4 linked regions of the Homo sapiens genome follow. The protein of the gene in region 2 purifies or fractionates together with the protein of the main gene of each other region. This does not show direct contact. Each region holds a gene or a part of one and is shown on either strand. Other genes may lie near its edges. The genes, in order: ING5, MIS18BP1, KAT7 and BRD1.

The links.
Region 1: the proteins of MIS18BP1 (region 2) and ING5 purify together in Homo sapiens (affinity purification with western blotting, with the first as the bait; one study listed by BioGRID). This does not show direct contact.
Region 3: the proteins of MIS18BP1 (region 2) and KAT7 purify together in Homo sapiens (affinity purification with western blotting; one study listed by BioGRID). This does not show direct contact.
Region 4: the proteins of MIS18BP1 (region 2) and BRD1 purify together in Homo sapiens (affinity purification with western blotting, with the first as the bait; one study listed by BioGRID). This does not show direct contact.

The regions. Positions count from the first base shown.
Region 1 is NC_000002.12:241,719,027-241,722,615, forward strand, and holds part of ING5 (inhibitor of growth protein 5), read left to right. Parts: intron 1-456; coding exon of another isoform or gene 457-595; exon of another isoform or gene 596-949; coding exon of another isoform or gene 950-1,096; exon of another isoform or gene 1,097-2,781; intron 2,782-3,589. UniProt on the Homo sapiens protein: Component of the HBO1 complex, which specifically mediates acetylation of histone H3 at 'Lys-14' (H3K14ac) and, to a lower extent, acetylation of histone H4. Component of the MOZ/MORF complex which has a histone H3 acetyltransferase activity.
Region 2 is NC_000014.9:45,225,655-45,229,243, forward strand, and holds part of MIS18BP1 (mis18-binding protein 1), read right to left. Parts: intron 2,161-3,589; coding exon 2,009-2,160; intron 1,183-2,008; coding exon 1,089-1,182; intron 1-1,088. UniProt on the Homo sapiens protein: Required for recruitment of CENPA to centromeres and normal chromosome segregation during mitosis.
Region 3 is NC_000017.11:49,791,681-49,795,180, forward strand, and holds part of KAT7 (histone acetyltransferase KAT7), read left to right. Parts: intron 1-205; coding exon 206-353; intron 354-3,500. UniProt on the Homo sapiens protein: Catalytic subunit of histone acetyltransferase HBO1 complexes, which specifically mediate acetylation of histone H3 at 'Lys-14' (H3K14ac), thereby regulating various processes, such as gene transcription, protein ubiquitination, immune regulation, stem cell pluripotent and self-renewal maintenance and embryonic development.
Region 4 is NC_000022.11:49,782,794-49,786,382, reverse strand, and holds part of BRD1 (bromodomain-containing protein 1), read left to right. Parts: intron 1-2,403; coding exon of another isoform or gene 2,404-2,454; exon of another isoform or gene 2,455-3,589. UniProt on the Homo sapiens protein: Scaffold subunit of various histone acetyltransferase (HAT) complexes, such as the MOZ/MORF and HBO1 complexes, that acts as a regulator of hematopoiesis.

The sequences.
Region 1 (3,589 bases), on a different chromosome or scaffold from region 2:
CAATAGGGCTGGGGGCCTGGGGCGGGGCAGGGTCTCAGCTTCAGCTCCACCGAGGCCCCTTGAGGACCTTGAGGTTTCCTCTCTCGCCTCCTGCCCCAGCGGCTTCCACAGTTGGTAGAAGTGCGGGGGAGGAGACCAGCGGTGCCCGAGCAGACCCCTTGCTCGAGAACTCCGAGGTTGCAGGGATTTTCCCTCTGCTTTTAGTTGCTCTGTGCAGCCTCTGGACTATAAATGTCGGTGGGGACGCGGCCGCCATGTGTGGCTGTGTGGGCTCAGCGTGGCCCAGTGGCCAGCCCAGCCCTCACTCAGTGCATGAGGCAGGCGGACGCCGCCCCCAACCCCCCAACACCCCCCACTCTGGCTGCAGGTCATCTAGCTCTTGTTGCTCCACAGCTCCCCGACATCTTTGAGAATGTGGTTTTTGTGACTTGCTGGGTTTTGTGTTTTCTAACTCAGTGGCAACAGCGTTCTGAGTCTTCCTGCTCCTTCCTGCTCGGAACCTGAAGGCCCTGTCCCGACCGTGCCTTTTCTGCGTGAAAGTGGGACTCCTCCTGGTCTCTTCCTCACCCAGTGCTGTTTCTCAAGGGTATGCTAGGCATAAGGAATGCAGGCACTGGGGGTCCTCGTGGGGGTGAAGGAGACTCCAGCTCCCTGTTGGGGTCGGGGCTTCCTCCCTGAGGGCTCTGCCCAGCTTCAGAGACCTCAGGAACAGCCAGCACCTCTGCAAACACAGGAAGATCCACTGTGGCCTCATGGCTTTTCCTGTCCTGACAGTGCGCTGACCAGCACTGTTTAGTAGCAATGCGGAGCCTGGGAGCTCAGCGCTGCCTGCCGTGCAGGTCCCAGTAGTGACAGATGAGAAGGGTGATCACCGATGGCGACAGTTGCGGGGCCCTGCGGCTCTGGATCTAGCTTGTGTGTGAATCTCTTTCTTCTCTGTGCCCCCAAGTGGCAGTGCTGCTCCTGTCCCATTGCAAGACGTCGAGACAGGCTGGTAAGGCCAGCTCTGAAGCTGGGCTCTGACGTCCAAGGCGCCAAGGAGGCCCCTTCCAGAGGGACAGGAGGATGGTGCAGGTGGGCAGACGGGTCATCCTGAGGACCAGTCGGTTGGACCCAAAGCCTGGCCTGCCGGGGCGGGAGTGTGCACTCGGGTGCCTCCAAGGGCATCATCCTGGGTGTGTGCAGGAGCCCGCCTGCCCCTGGGCTCTGGAGTTCTGTGGTGCGCGTCCCTGACCCATCAGCACAGTGGGTATTCACGCCCCTCGTGGTCACGCTGTGGTGCCAGGCCGCTCTGCCTCAAGGCAGGTCCTGTTCCCTGCTGGGGACCCAGGCGCACGCACCATCCTGTCCCTGTGGACTGCCCTCTTCAGGCCTGTTCCCCACGTGCCCGGGGCTCTTCCTGGAATGCAGTGTTCCTAGACTGCACAGATGCTCCGTGTCTCGTCTGAGATCCCGTGACCTGAGGCTGCCCCCTGCACTGTTGCTGCCCTGTGGCCTTGCTCTGGCGAGGCAGAACCTGTGTGTGTGGATGAAGGGCAGTGTCACCTGTAGCACCTGGAATCCCGGGGCTTGGACAGGCAGCCAGCCCCCTGCTAGGAGCCACGTGGAGTGCTGGGAAGCCATCGGGGCCGGGCGCGGAAGGGCTCGCTGGCACCGTCTGGCGAGGGGTGCCTGCCACACCCTGGGGAGTTAGCACAGAGGGTGCCTCTTGTGGCAGTGGTGCTGAAGGGAGTCAGCAGCCGCTGACAGTTGGGGTCACCCTGGCCTGTGCAAGGGACAGGGCTCCCCATGGCCTCCTGGTTGCCTCCCTCAGGGCTGATAGCAGCACTCCCTGGCCACACGCCATGGCGCTCCCTCAGGCGAGACTGAGAGGCCAGTGAGGCCTGCACGGTGGCCTCAGCTTCTGGGGTGCCCTTGCTGGGCGGTCCCCTCAGGCCCCCGGCCCTCTCCCACAGCCATCAAATCTGGCCAGCGCCCTCGAACCTGGTGATGCTGAGACACAGGTCAAGTGGCAGCTCAAGATGTCAGGTCGGGCTTTGTGGACAGAATTGGACTCGGCGCAGAAGAGGAGGGCGTCAGCGTTTCGGGGACGGTTGGCAGCAGAGGGTGCTGCCCTGCTCTCCGCGGGTGAGAGGTGACTCGAGGAGACCGCAGGAGCCCCTTGGAGGTGAAGCCACAGGTGGCATCCCGGAATCGGCAGGAGGCTGAGACGTAGACCCTTGCGTGCTGCTGTCAGAGGAGAGACCCGAAGACTACTTGAGACTGTTGCTTGAAAGCAGTGTCGGCAGCACCTGGACCTGGACTTGTGACGCTGATGGATTTCAGCTCTAAAGAGAAACCCCTGTCTATTCCCAGACAGAGAGAAAGAGCAGAAGAGCAGATTACCTGCAAAGGACAGACTTAGGTGGGCGCCCCTGTGCCAGAGGGCAGCGGGGAGGCCGGGTGCATGCTGAGCCCGAGTGTGTGTGTATGTGTACAGGCAATTGCAAAGGCGTAGAAAAGCTTTAGACAGGTATCCAAGGAAAAGCTGAGTGTTGATTCCCTCTGGGACCCAGACTTCTGCTCCTTGGCTTTCCCTGATCGTGACTGTTTTTCTCACGGCCACGTTCCTCCTGCTAACCTGCTGTGTTTACATACCAACTAGATATTCGTGGGTTGGAGGGTGGGATAGGGAAGATACTTTTTCTTTCTGTACTAATGGGAATACACTGTCTATAGTACCTGCAGCTTGTAAGTTTATTTGAAAAATACTGAAATATAAAAGCGTAAATTTCCCCCTAAGTGCATCCCTTTCAAACAGGAAAGTCTCCACCTGAGGTCTGTGGTCCTGGTGGGACGGCCATGGTGCTACAGGTGGCAGGCTTGGAGGGAGGCATAGACGGGGTGGAACACCTGCCAGGCTGCTGTGTAGAAACCCACGTGGGAGCTGATGGGGATGAAGGAGTGACAAGGATGGTGTGTGGTCGGAAGGGGCCCTGTGCCAGGTGGACAGCTGGGTGGGTGGTGGGCGGTCCAGGGAGTGTGTGGGGAGCTGCTGGTTGAGTCAGTATTGGGGCAGAGGTGCCTGAGTAGGTGCGTGGAGGGCCCGGGCGCAGGACGCATGGCTGTTCTCTTGGGAGGAGGTCACAGTTACGGGAGAGCTGTTGACTGTGCGGGCTGCTCTGACACCTGTCAGTCTGGAGTGGGAGGCTGGCAGGCTTCTCTCAGGTGTCAGCCGTCTGCTGGCAGAGGTGACGTGTGCTTGTTTCCAAAGGGGCCGGGGTCTTTGGAGGGATGGCCCAGAAGTGGGTTGAGTCCAGAGGTCCCCGGGGGAGTCCTGTCTGGGAGGAGGGACCGAGATGAGAGTGGACTCGTCCCCAGAGTGGGACCAGAACCCCGGTGCTGTGGGTGAGTGCTGCGCTTCACGGCCTCCTGGGGGCCCTCTGTGCCCCCATGCCCCTGCCTGGGCCCGAAGGTGGGCGCGAGGTCTCCACCCCTCTGCTGCCAGCTGCTGCTGTTCCTGGATTTTTGTGGGTAACTGTTCTTTCTAGCATCAGCTGACAATCTGTTCGTATACTTAATGATTTTCTTGCTGCGCCTTCTTAGAACA
Region 2 (3,589 bases):
AAAAGAGAACAACCTGAGAATCTTATATCTTGTCACTAAAGAAAGCAAATTAAAATGAGAACAATTCACCAATTCAAAACCTAAGTAATGAGAAGTCAAACTAACTGAAACTATCCAACTGTAATTAGAAATACATATAAACTGCAAATCATCCCACTGTCATAGAAACATATTACAACCACCTCCACATATTATGTGCCATTGTTTACAAGATGACTGACAGAATGAGACTGATAGATAATATTGAATGCTGGGGAGAAAAGAAGCCTCTAAATTACAATCCGTGGAAAAAGGTAATAATCAAAATAATTTAGAAAGTGTCTACAAGATTTTCCACTGGCATCATATATCTTCAAATTATGAGAAAAGTATTTTCTTCTAACTCCTCATATAAATCCAATTCAAATGTTTACCTGGGAATTTGAAAATTTTCAACATTATAATTTTGAACAATATTTCCATTCAGAGTATTTGTTAATTTTAATAAATTATTTAATAAAGATCCAGCTATCTTGGATACTTAAACCGAATATGAACTCGGAAGTATAAGTAGCACTGCTTTCCTATCTTCTTCAAACAAATAAATGTTCTTCACTTTCACTTCTTTTCACTTATAAGAGGAAATAAAACACAAAAAAATGCTATAAAGCTAATGGATTTAGCTCAACATGAAATTGTAAACTTGCTAACATTTAGACGAAAGCCTCTAAATTATGGCATGCAGGATTCCAATTAAATCACTCTGAAAATCCACACTTAAAACTAAATTATTGTACTAAATTCATAAAAGGATTCACTCTTTACACATTCCTGTAAGCATATGTTAAATGATATATAGTTTTGTGATCTAAACAAATATTTTAGTACCCAGATTAAAGAAGGCAAACCTGTAAGTATAGGTGGTTTTTAAAAGGGCTATTTTATTATGAAAATCATCTTATGTAAAAATAACAAAACCAAACATTTAAAAACATTAAATAATTTGCCATTTTACATGAGGAAATTTACAAGATCACTTTTATCATATTAAAAACATTTCACATAGTAGCTTTCTGCTTATGATTAAAAAACCATTAAAGATATATTACCTTGCTTCTGACTTTTTATTATCCTTTCATTTGTTCTTTCACCAATTTTTAGTTTCTTTGAAGACATTTTATATTCTTTTTTTCCAATTAATTCCTTCAAAACAAAAAGATACCTAGGTTTTATTTTAAAACTACTACCAAAACATGATCTGAAGCATTTTCATAGTATGCATCAAGCATACAAATTTCTAGGTACTTACAGTTCCGCAAATTTCATTAGTGGACACATTCCGAAACTTACTTGCCAGACCTTGAGCACTACGAGCAACATCTGGGAATCCATTATCCTACATATTTTCTACATTAATTTAATACTTTGTGGTTTTTCAAGTGCTTTTAAAAATATGCTTTATTTAAGCTTTACTCTAAAAGCTAAAACTTTTATTGTTGCCTGCATTTTTTCATTGAGAGACAGGGAAAATAAATATCAAGACATTCAGTCCCCAAGTAAATGAAAAGCTGATACTTGAAAAACAGAACTCTTGGCTGGGCGCAGTGGCTCACGACTGTAATCCCAGCACTTTGGGAGGCAGAGGTGGGTGAATCACAAGGTCAGGAGTTCGAGACCAGCCTGGCCAATATGGTGAAACCCCGTTACTACTAAAAATACAAAAATTAGCCAGGCGTGGTGGTGCATGCCTGTAGTCCCAGCTACTCGGGAAGCTGAGGCAGGAGAATCACTCGAACCCAGGAGGTGGAGGTTGAGGCAGGAGAATCACTTGAACCCAGGAGGCAGAGGGTGCAATAAGCCGAGATCACGCCACTGCACTCCAGCCTGGGCAATAGAGGGAGACTCCATCTCAAAAGAAAAAAAAAAAAAAAACAGAACTCACGTCCCTGATATGGTCCCAAACCTTTTCAGTAGTAAATCACCCTTCTAAATATCAACTTGAACTATACAGTGTACAATAAAGCCTTACCTGATTAGATAAGTCATCTCCTCCTCCATTTTGAATAGTATTATTTACTTGGTCATCTGGGAACCTTAATGTTGGTTTATTTTGGCAATTACTGTGGCACATGTTTAATTCTGTAGCTCCTGGTGACTCACTGTGCTTATTACTCTTCAGTTCTATGAATACAAAGATGGAGATTTCAATAAATGGTTATATAAAAGAGAAGCTGCTTTTCTACATGAAGAATTAACTTTGACGCTAGGTGTGGTGGCTCACGCCTGTAATCCCAGCACTCTGGGAGGCCGAGGGAGGAGGATTGCTTGAGCCCAGGAGTTCAAGACTAGCCTAGGCAAAATAGTGATACACTGATTCTACAAAGAATAAAAGGTTGGTGCAAGCCTATGGTCCCAGATACTTGGGAGCCTGAGGTGGGAGGATCACTTGAGCCAGGGAGGTCGAGGCTGCAGTGAGCCGTGATTGTGCCACTGTACTCCAGCCTGGGTGACAGAGCAACACCCTGTCTCAGAAATAATAATGATAATCTGTCTAATCCCTCTGTCATAAATATTTGTTATAATTTGACTAGGATATAAAGCAATTTTATTTGGAAAGAATCACTCTGTATAGCGCTACGCTACATTTTGTTTGAATCACTTTTTTTCCTTCAAAAAAAATTTAAAAAGCCTAGACAGCCATATTATTCACGACCATCTGTTTTGGATCTCCTTTGTCACATCTAAAGACAGAATAGTAAGGTTAATCCATTTTGTAAATAAAAATTCCTGTTCATCCTAACTGCACATCAACTAAATAGAAAGCTAATAACTGTTCTTCTTCTATTTCTTCATGTATGTAGAATTATGTTTCAACTAGTTTATGTACTCCAATGTATAACTAAATTTCTGTAATTAAAATTTTGAGCAAAACTAAATTATACAGTATATAATATATGCTCAACAAACAGTTACTAAGCTGGAATTCTAGGTAAGTTAAAACAGATTCATAAAAAGTATAAAAACATTTTGTTATTTTTCTAGAAGCTATTCTTTAAAGATGTACTGACTAGTCCTTGCTCTTGAAAATATTACCATATAATGAAGGAAGCTTCTATTATGATAGGTCATTTATCATATACTCTGGTAAGTGTAATAACAGAGATAAAGTGCTTTAAGAGCAATACTATGATACACAAGTACTTTTTAGGCAAATCATTAAAACACATACATAAAATTACATTATCTTAAATTAACATGGGTTGGTACCTTTACATAACCTTAGCTATATAATGTTAGATGTGGTTTTGTTTTTTTCATGCAAAGTGCAATGATAATAATAAAATTAATAACAGCCCCAACCACCACTCAAAATAACTTACGTGATATGAAGATAGTGTCTAACAGTTTCATTAAGAAAAGATCTAATGAATTACACTAGAAAAATGATGCAATCATAACAGAATATATTAATATTTGCCCCTAAACCAAGATCCCTGGGGGTGGGGGTGGGGGGAATCATGCCTTATTCATCTCTAAGTTCCTAAAACTTAATAGACCAGGGTTCATGGAAAGCACTTTAAAAATGTTGACACCAGGTGCCATGTTTCAT
Region 3 (3,500 bases), on a different chromosome or scaffold from region 2:
TTCCCTATTTGTAGGTTGTTCCATTTAAGTGTTCTAAATAAAGTGAAGTTGCCTGAGGGGGTGGGAGGATGAGAAATGCTTGTGGAATCCTTATTTAGGTTTGAACTTGGGGTTTTCAGTGTCACAGCTTGTTTTATTTTCAATGTTAATGCAAACTCTCAGACCAAATGCTTCTGTGCTAATATCTGGATCTATGGTATTACAGAGGAATGCAGGCAGTAGTTCAGATGGAACCGAAGATTCCGATTTTTCTACAGATCTCGAGCACACAGACAGTTCAGAAAGTGATGGCACATCCCGACGATCTGCTCGAGTCACCCGCTCCTCAGCCAGGCTAAGCCAGAGTTCTCAAGGTAAAAAAACCTTCATTTTTCCTTACCACTCCTCACATCTGGCTGACTGGCCCATCACATTATTTTCCTAGTTAATGTGGAAACTGGCCCCTTGGCTTGGTGTAGATGACAGTGCACCAGATGATTGGTAAAATGTAGAGTGAATGCAGAGTTGTCAGGTCTTTAACAATGCCTCTGTGGGGGGCTACTATCCAATCTGTAGACCCAAAGGAACTGCGGATGGTATAATGGATAGAGACACACGTATGTCTTGAGTCATTTGTTTGTTTGTTTGTTTGTTTTTTTAGATCGCAGTGTCTCCATCAGTAAAATTGGAATGTTATCCCTTCACTTTCTGTTTGAATGTTTGAGGCTTAGGGACTTGAAGTCCAGATGGTATCTGATTTATGGTGGCTTGATTTAATTTTTTTTTTTAACTTTACAGTGGTGCTAAAACAATATGCATTCAGTGGAAACTTTTAGAATTTTGAATTTCGGTCTTTTCCTGGGCCAGTGATATGTGGGCCAAATATTTTCTCATGTTGCTGAGTGGTGGCAATGAGCCATAATAACTCCAGTCAGTGAGCCGTAACTCCCAGTCAGCCATTTGATCATGAGGGTAAACCAGTACTCTTCAGTGTACTGTCTTTAATAAATTATATGCAATATTCAACACTTTATTAAAAATAGGCTTTGTGTTAGATGATTGTGCACAATTGTAGGCTAATGTAAGTGGTTTGAGCCTATTTAAAGTAGGCTAGGCTAAGCTATGATGCTCGGTAGGTTAGGTGTATAGCGGTTTTTTTTATTTTCTGGAGACAGGGTCTTGTGCTCTGTTGCACAGGTTGGAGTGCAGTGGTGTGATCTTGGCTCACTGCAGCCTTGACCTCCTTGGCTCAAGTGATCCTCCCACCTCAGCCTCCTGAGTAGCTGGGACTACAGGTGCACGCCACCATGCCTAGCTAGTTTTCTTTGTTTTTTGTAGAGATGAGGTCTTATTATGTTGTCTAGGCTGGTCTCAAACTCCTGGACTCAAGCAGTCCTTCCACCTTGGCCTCCCAAAGTACTGGGGTTATAGATGTGAGCCACCATGTTCAGCCTGTAAATGCATTTTTAACTTATAATACTTTCAACTTATGATAGTTTTATTGAGACTTAACCCCATTACAAGTCAAGGAGCATCTGTAGTCTCTTGGACTTACTCTTGGCAGAGGCCCACTTCTAAAACCATGTTTAACTCTGGAATGTAATCCAATAAACACTTGATAGATATTAATAGTTGTACCAAAATATCAGTGTGGAAATAATGGAATTTTGCTTTGGTAATAAGGAATTGAGAATCTTGGGGTTGGAAGGTAGTTTGAACTATCTCTAGTGCATTTAGGCATCTGGGGTTAGATTTGGAGGGTACCCTTGACCCTCCTGGCTCTGCTCTGGTATTCCCTGAGGAGGAAAGAAGGTTGCAGCTAATACAGAAAGCCGATGATCAACAGGTGATAATAGATGAAGGGAAAAAAACTTTAACATGTTTTGAGCACTTCAACAGTGTTGCTTTGGTTAATTTTTTTTTTTTTTTTTTTTGAGATGGAGTCTAGCTCTGTTGCCAGGCGGAGTGCAGTGGCATGATCTTGGTTCACTGCAACTTCCGCCTCCTGGGTTCAAGCAATTCTCCTGCCTCAGCCTGCAAGTAGCTGGGACTACAGGTGCACGCCACCGTGCCCAGCTAATTTTTGTATTTTTAGTAGAGATGGGGTTTCACCATGTTGGCCAGGATAGTCTCAATCTCTTGACCTCATGGTCTGCCTGCCTTGGCCTCCCAAAGTGCTTGGATTATAGGCATGAGCCACCGCGCCCTGCTGCTTTGGTCACTTTTATATGAGTATGTTGCACAATGAGAGAAAAACCATCAGTTTTTCAAGCAAGAAAGTGGGAATATCCTCTTTAACAACTGTTCCTAACTTTATTTTTGAATTTAGGATTTCAGCTAAAGTATTGCTATTGTCTCTTGATTTCTTAAGCTTTAAATTTTTACCACAATGAGACTATGGATAAATAGCTACTATAACTCAAGCAGTATGTTATGTACTAGGAACCATGATAGAAAAATCATAGTTCCTGTCCTCAAAGATCTTACAGTTCAGTGCAAGATACAGATATGAAAATTGATCATGGGAATACATTATGGCAAGGGCTGTGAGAGGGGTTTGCATAGAGTACTACATAAGCCCAGAGGTGGGACAGCCAACTTAGGGCAGCACTCCCACAATGATGAAGTCTTTTTTGTTGTTGTTGAGACAGAATCTCGCTCTGTCGCCCAGGCTGGAGTGCAGTGGCATGATCTTGGTTCACTGCAGCTTCCGCCTCCTGGGTTCAAGGAATTCTCCTGCCCCAGCCTCCCAAGTAGCTGGGATTACAGGCGAGCACCACCATACCTGGCTATTTTTTGTATTTTTAGTAGAGACAGGGTTTCACCGTGTTGTCCAGGCTTGTCTTAAACTCCTGATCTCAAGTGATCTGCCCGCCTCGGCCTCCCAAAGTGCTGGGATTACAGGCGTGAGCCGCCGTGCCCAGCTGCACACTGAGATGTCTTAAAGGCTCTGATAGGAATTTACAAGTTGAAAGATGGGAATATGTTATTCTCGGCAGATGGAACAGCATATGCTAAGGAAAAGACATAATGTTTGTAGGAAGTATAATTGACCATGCCCTAGACACCTGAAAACTAAATATTCAAAACAGCTAGGAAATGCGTAAGCACTGAGTCTCTTTCTGGTTATCATACCTCATGACCACAGAGTTGCACAACTCCAGGGGTACCATTTACAATGTCAGCAATGTAAGGTGGTCCTCCCTAGAGCACAAGGTAGATCATATTGTGAAAGGAGGCCCCTTGGAGATGTACAAATGGATAACCTTGCTCTGTGCTAACTTTTCTCACCCGAAAGTTTGGAAATTTTCAGTTTTCTTCTTTAGAGAATCTATAAGATTTCTTCAGATTTTTTTTTTTTTTAAATATACGTTGGGGGGTGCAGCCGTGAGAGAGTGAGGCTGACACCGCGCCCTGGCCTGTGCATCCCGCCCTCTGAAAAAAAAATTAATTAATTAAAATAAAATATACTTTAGAGAGGATTTTGACTGTTCTCACCACAAAGAAATGACAAGTGTTTG
Region 4 (3,589 bases), on a different chromosome or scaffold from region 2:
TTCCTGCAGCCTCTGCTCCCCGCCCCTCAGAGGAAGCTGAGGAGTTTGTCCTTTAAAGAGGAGCAGCTGTCATCGGTTTGCTTCTTCGGTACTGGCTGCGCTTCTGGAGGTGCCGGCTCAGGTTGCCAGCGACTCTTTTCTGGAAGCGTGTCTGGAGCATGTTTGTCATTTTGGTTTTTGTCCCGAGTCAAGGCTTGGTTCCCGTCTGTCCTGTCTGCCTGTTATACCTAGATAAGGAGATGCGCATTTTCTCCTGGCTGTGCTGGTGTGCCGTGGTGCCTCGTGCACTTGAGCAGTGAGAGAGGGTGGGGCTGGGTGGGTGTTGCTTATTTCCCAGAGTGGCAGCAAGTGAGTCCTGTGTCATGGAGCCTCACCAGGCCGGGTGCAGATGGAAGGCTGTGGTGGGCAAGACCTGCCCAGGCCACTCCCTCACATCTTGTCCCTGTTCCTTCTGCTGGTCTCTGGCCTGAAGCGTCCGGGGAGGGGAGTGAGACCAGGCACTGTCAAAGGTCTTTGTGCAGAAGGAGGCTCACTTCCTACCCTTGCCAGCAAGCAGGTCATGCGTCTTGTTGCCAAAGTAATTTCTGGTAAATTTCATTTTGATTTGTATGAAAATTTTGCACGTAACTGAATGTGTAGAAATTTTCTACCCATGTCCTTTTACTTTGATGGATTGATGTTAAATTGGCATTTTAAAATAATTTGAAAAAGCTTTTTTGCTTTCTAAGTAATAGGAAGCTATTGAAATGTTTCACAAGATACCAATAAGAATAGATGTCCTTGACTCAGGACTGGGGGATGTGTCTTAACCACGTTGGTCTTTCTTAGCCACCTTTGGTGAAAGACTCTGACCTGGTTTTCCAAGCACCCCGGAAATTCTGTGATGAATCGGGTCAGGGTGCTGTGCACTGGGTACTAGAGGTTGGGTCAGTGTAATTGTGGGCGTCCCCTCTGCATGCAGAACTTGGAGTTCGGCTGACGCTCCACTTCCTCGGGGTTTCACGTCTGTCGGCGGCAGAGGTATGGGGCTGCGTGCGTGGAGGCCCTGCCGGCCGTGGGGCTGGGGTTTGAGGCGGCCTCCCGTCGACACTCAGCAGGATGCTCACGTGGTGGTTTCCACCAGGTGGCCCCACCTGACCGGGCCCTGCCCCAGCTGTGGGCTCCCACTGTGGACAGTTTTGCCGGCTGGCGGCCACGTCCTCAGCAACCTCTCAGGCTCGTTCATCAGATGTCCCTTGTAGAAGAGCACGTGTCCCCTCCGGGCCACTGTCTTACATTGGAGTGGAGTGTTTTGCGGGCTTCCCGTGGTGACGGTGGTGTAGAGCAGTCTTACTGCAGACCTTCAGTGAGCGTGGCCCATGGTGGCTTTTGAGAATCATGGTGCCCTCTGATCCTGACTGAAGTGGAGATTTCTGCTCTCTCATTTCCGAGTGACAGTGGATTTCCGTGGAGGTGCGGTGAGTTCCTGAGCTCTCTCCTGAGCAGCCGGGAGCCTCAGCAGCATTAAGACCAGGCCCTCGGGAGTGGGAGGCATTCCACTGCTGTGGCCGAGGCGCCCGGGGAAGGGCTGGGCGTGCTCTGAATGGTGCCAGTCCCGCCATCCGCCCTCGCTTTGGTTTCACCGGAACCTTCTGGTGCTCTGCACATGGGGGATTTCTTGCCCAGAGCTGCAGTTCTTCGCAGTCTTAGGACAGGAATTATCCGGAACCTTCTGATGTTTTCCATACATGCATCTGTGTGCTCTGAACTTTAGGGAGTTATCTGGCATTTTCCAGCACACGCACAATTCTGAGTTAGGCTGAACAGGGTCGCTGGTCCTGAGGCGACGCACTCACTGTGGGCCTCCTGCCCGTGTCGCCCGCGGGCCGGCTGTGCTGTGCGCCAGGCTTCTGTTCCTGCGATGGCCCAGCCCCAGAGTCTGGCCCTGACTCGTGGCTTCCTTCCTCCGTGACTGCACGCTCACCAGCAGTGAACCGTCACCTGAAGCGGCCTTCCACTCGCCGCCGTTGCGGAGACCCCTGCTGCGAGTCTCTGTGTGCACGTGCTGGGGCGTGTGAGAGCGTGGGGGTGTCTTTGTCTACTCGCCGCCGTTGCGGAGACCCCTGCCGCGAGTCTCCCTGTGCACGTGCTGGGGCGTGAGAGCGCGGGGGTGTCTTTGTCCACTCACCGCCGTTGCGGAGACCCCTGCTGCGAGTCTCTGTGTGCATGTGCTGGGGCTTGAGAGTGTGGGGATGTCTTTGTCCACTCGCTGCCGTTGCGGAGACCCCTGTTGCGAGTCTCCATGTGCACGTGCTGGGGCGTGAGAGCGCGGGGGTGTCTTCAGTGTCCTTCGGCTGTTCAGGGAGGAGGCTGAGCTGTCCTGCCCTTTCATTCAGACTAAATGGCTTTTTCACTGTTTTCCAGGTTCTCACTTTAACCACTAATGTGCTGGGTAGTTCACTCTTTGGACCCTAATCATTTTCTCTTACCTCAACTTGGACTGGAGTTCTGCTAAGCGGCCGTTTTGGAATGCACAAAGATCACTGCATCTTGCCTTTCACTTAATTCTTGCGGATCACATTGGAATCATCAGCTCAAACATCCTCTAGACAAAATCACAAACAGCAGCCCTGGAGGAGCTCTCCCCCACCCCAGCCCACCCCCTCTGTAAGTCAGAGCCCGGCAGTGGGAATGGTGCTGGCGCCCGGTGCACGCCTGGAGCTGGCGGGATGTCGTGGCACCTCAGCCTTCCCTCTGGACAGTCACGAAGGACGCAGAGGAGAGCCCGGCACCGACTGGGAGCCTGCTGCAGCTGACGACACAGTGGACAGCATTCTGAGGCTGTCCTGAGCATGTGCGGAGCCGTCCCATAGTGACTGGTGGTTTGGGTGTGACGGCCATGCCCAGGCGCGTTGTGCTGTGTCTGTGCCATGGGGTATGGAGGAACTTGGCTCGGCACTGTCTGAGGATGTGGCATGGACAGTGCGTGCTCACTCACTCGCTAGCATCTTCTGTATTTCTGGGTTTTCTACCTGATTTCCTTCTCCCCTTACTTCCCCTTCCTCTGTTTTTTCCCCACAATGCCCAGTGGATTCTTGAGCAGTGCTGCTGTTTGTCTCTTGCTGGTCACCACGCTGAGTGCCCCTGCGGCCAACTGAGAAGTCCTGCTCGTGGGGTGGGGCATCTGTGCGTGGGATCTTGTGCAGGCGTCTGTCCTGGGCCTTGGGTCTGTCTCTGACCATCCCAGCTGCATTGTCATGGAGCTGGGTCCCAGCAAGAGCAGGTCTCGTGCAGGCGTCTGGCCTGGGCCTTGGTTCTGTCTCTGACCATCCCAGCTGCATTGTCACGGAGCGAGTCCCAGCACGATGGGCCTTGGGTCTGTCTCTGACCGTCCCAGCTGCATTGTCATGGAGCAGGTCCCAGCAAGATGGGCTTTGGGTCTGTCTCTGACTGTCCCCAGCGGCATTGTCACAGAGCAAGTCTTGTGCAGGCATCTGGCCTGGGCCTTGGGTCTGTCTCTGACCATCCCAGCTGCATTGTCGCGGAGCGGGTCCCAGCACGATGGGCCTTGGGTCTGTCTCTGACCGTCCCAGCTGCATTGTCATGGAGC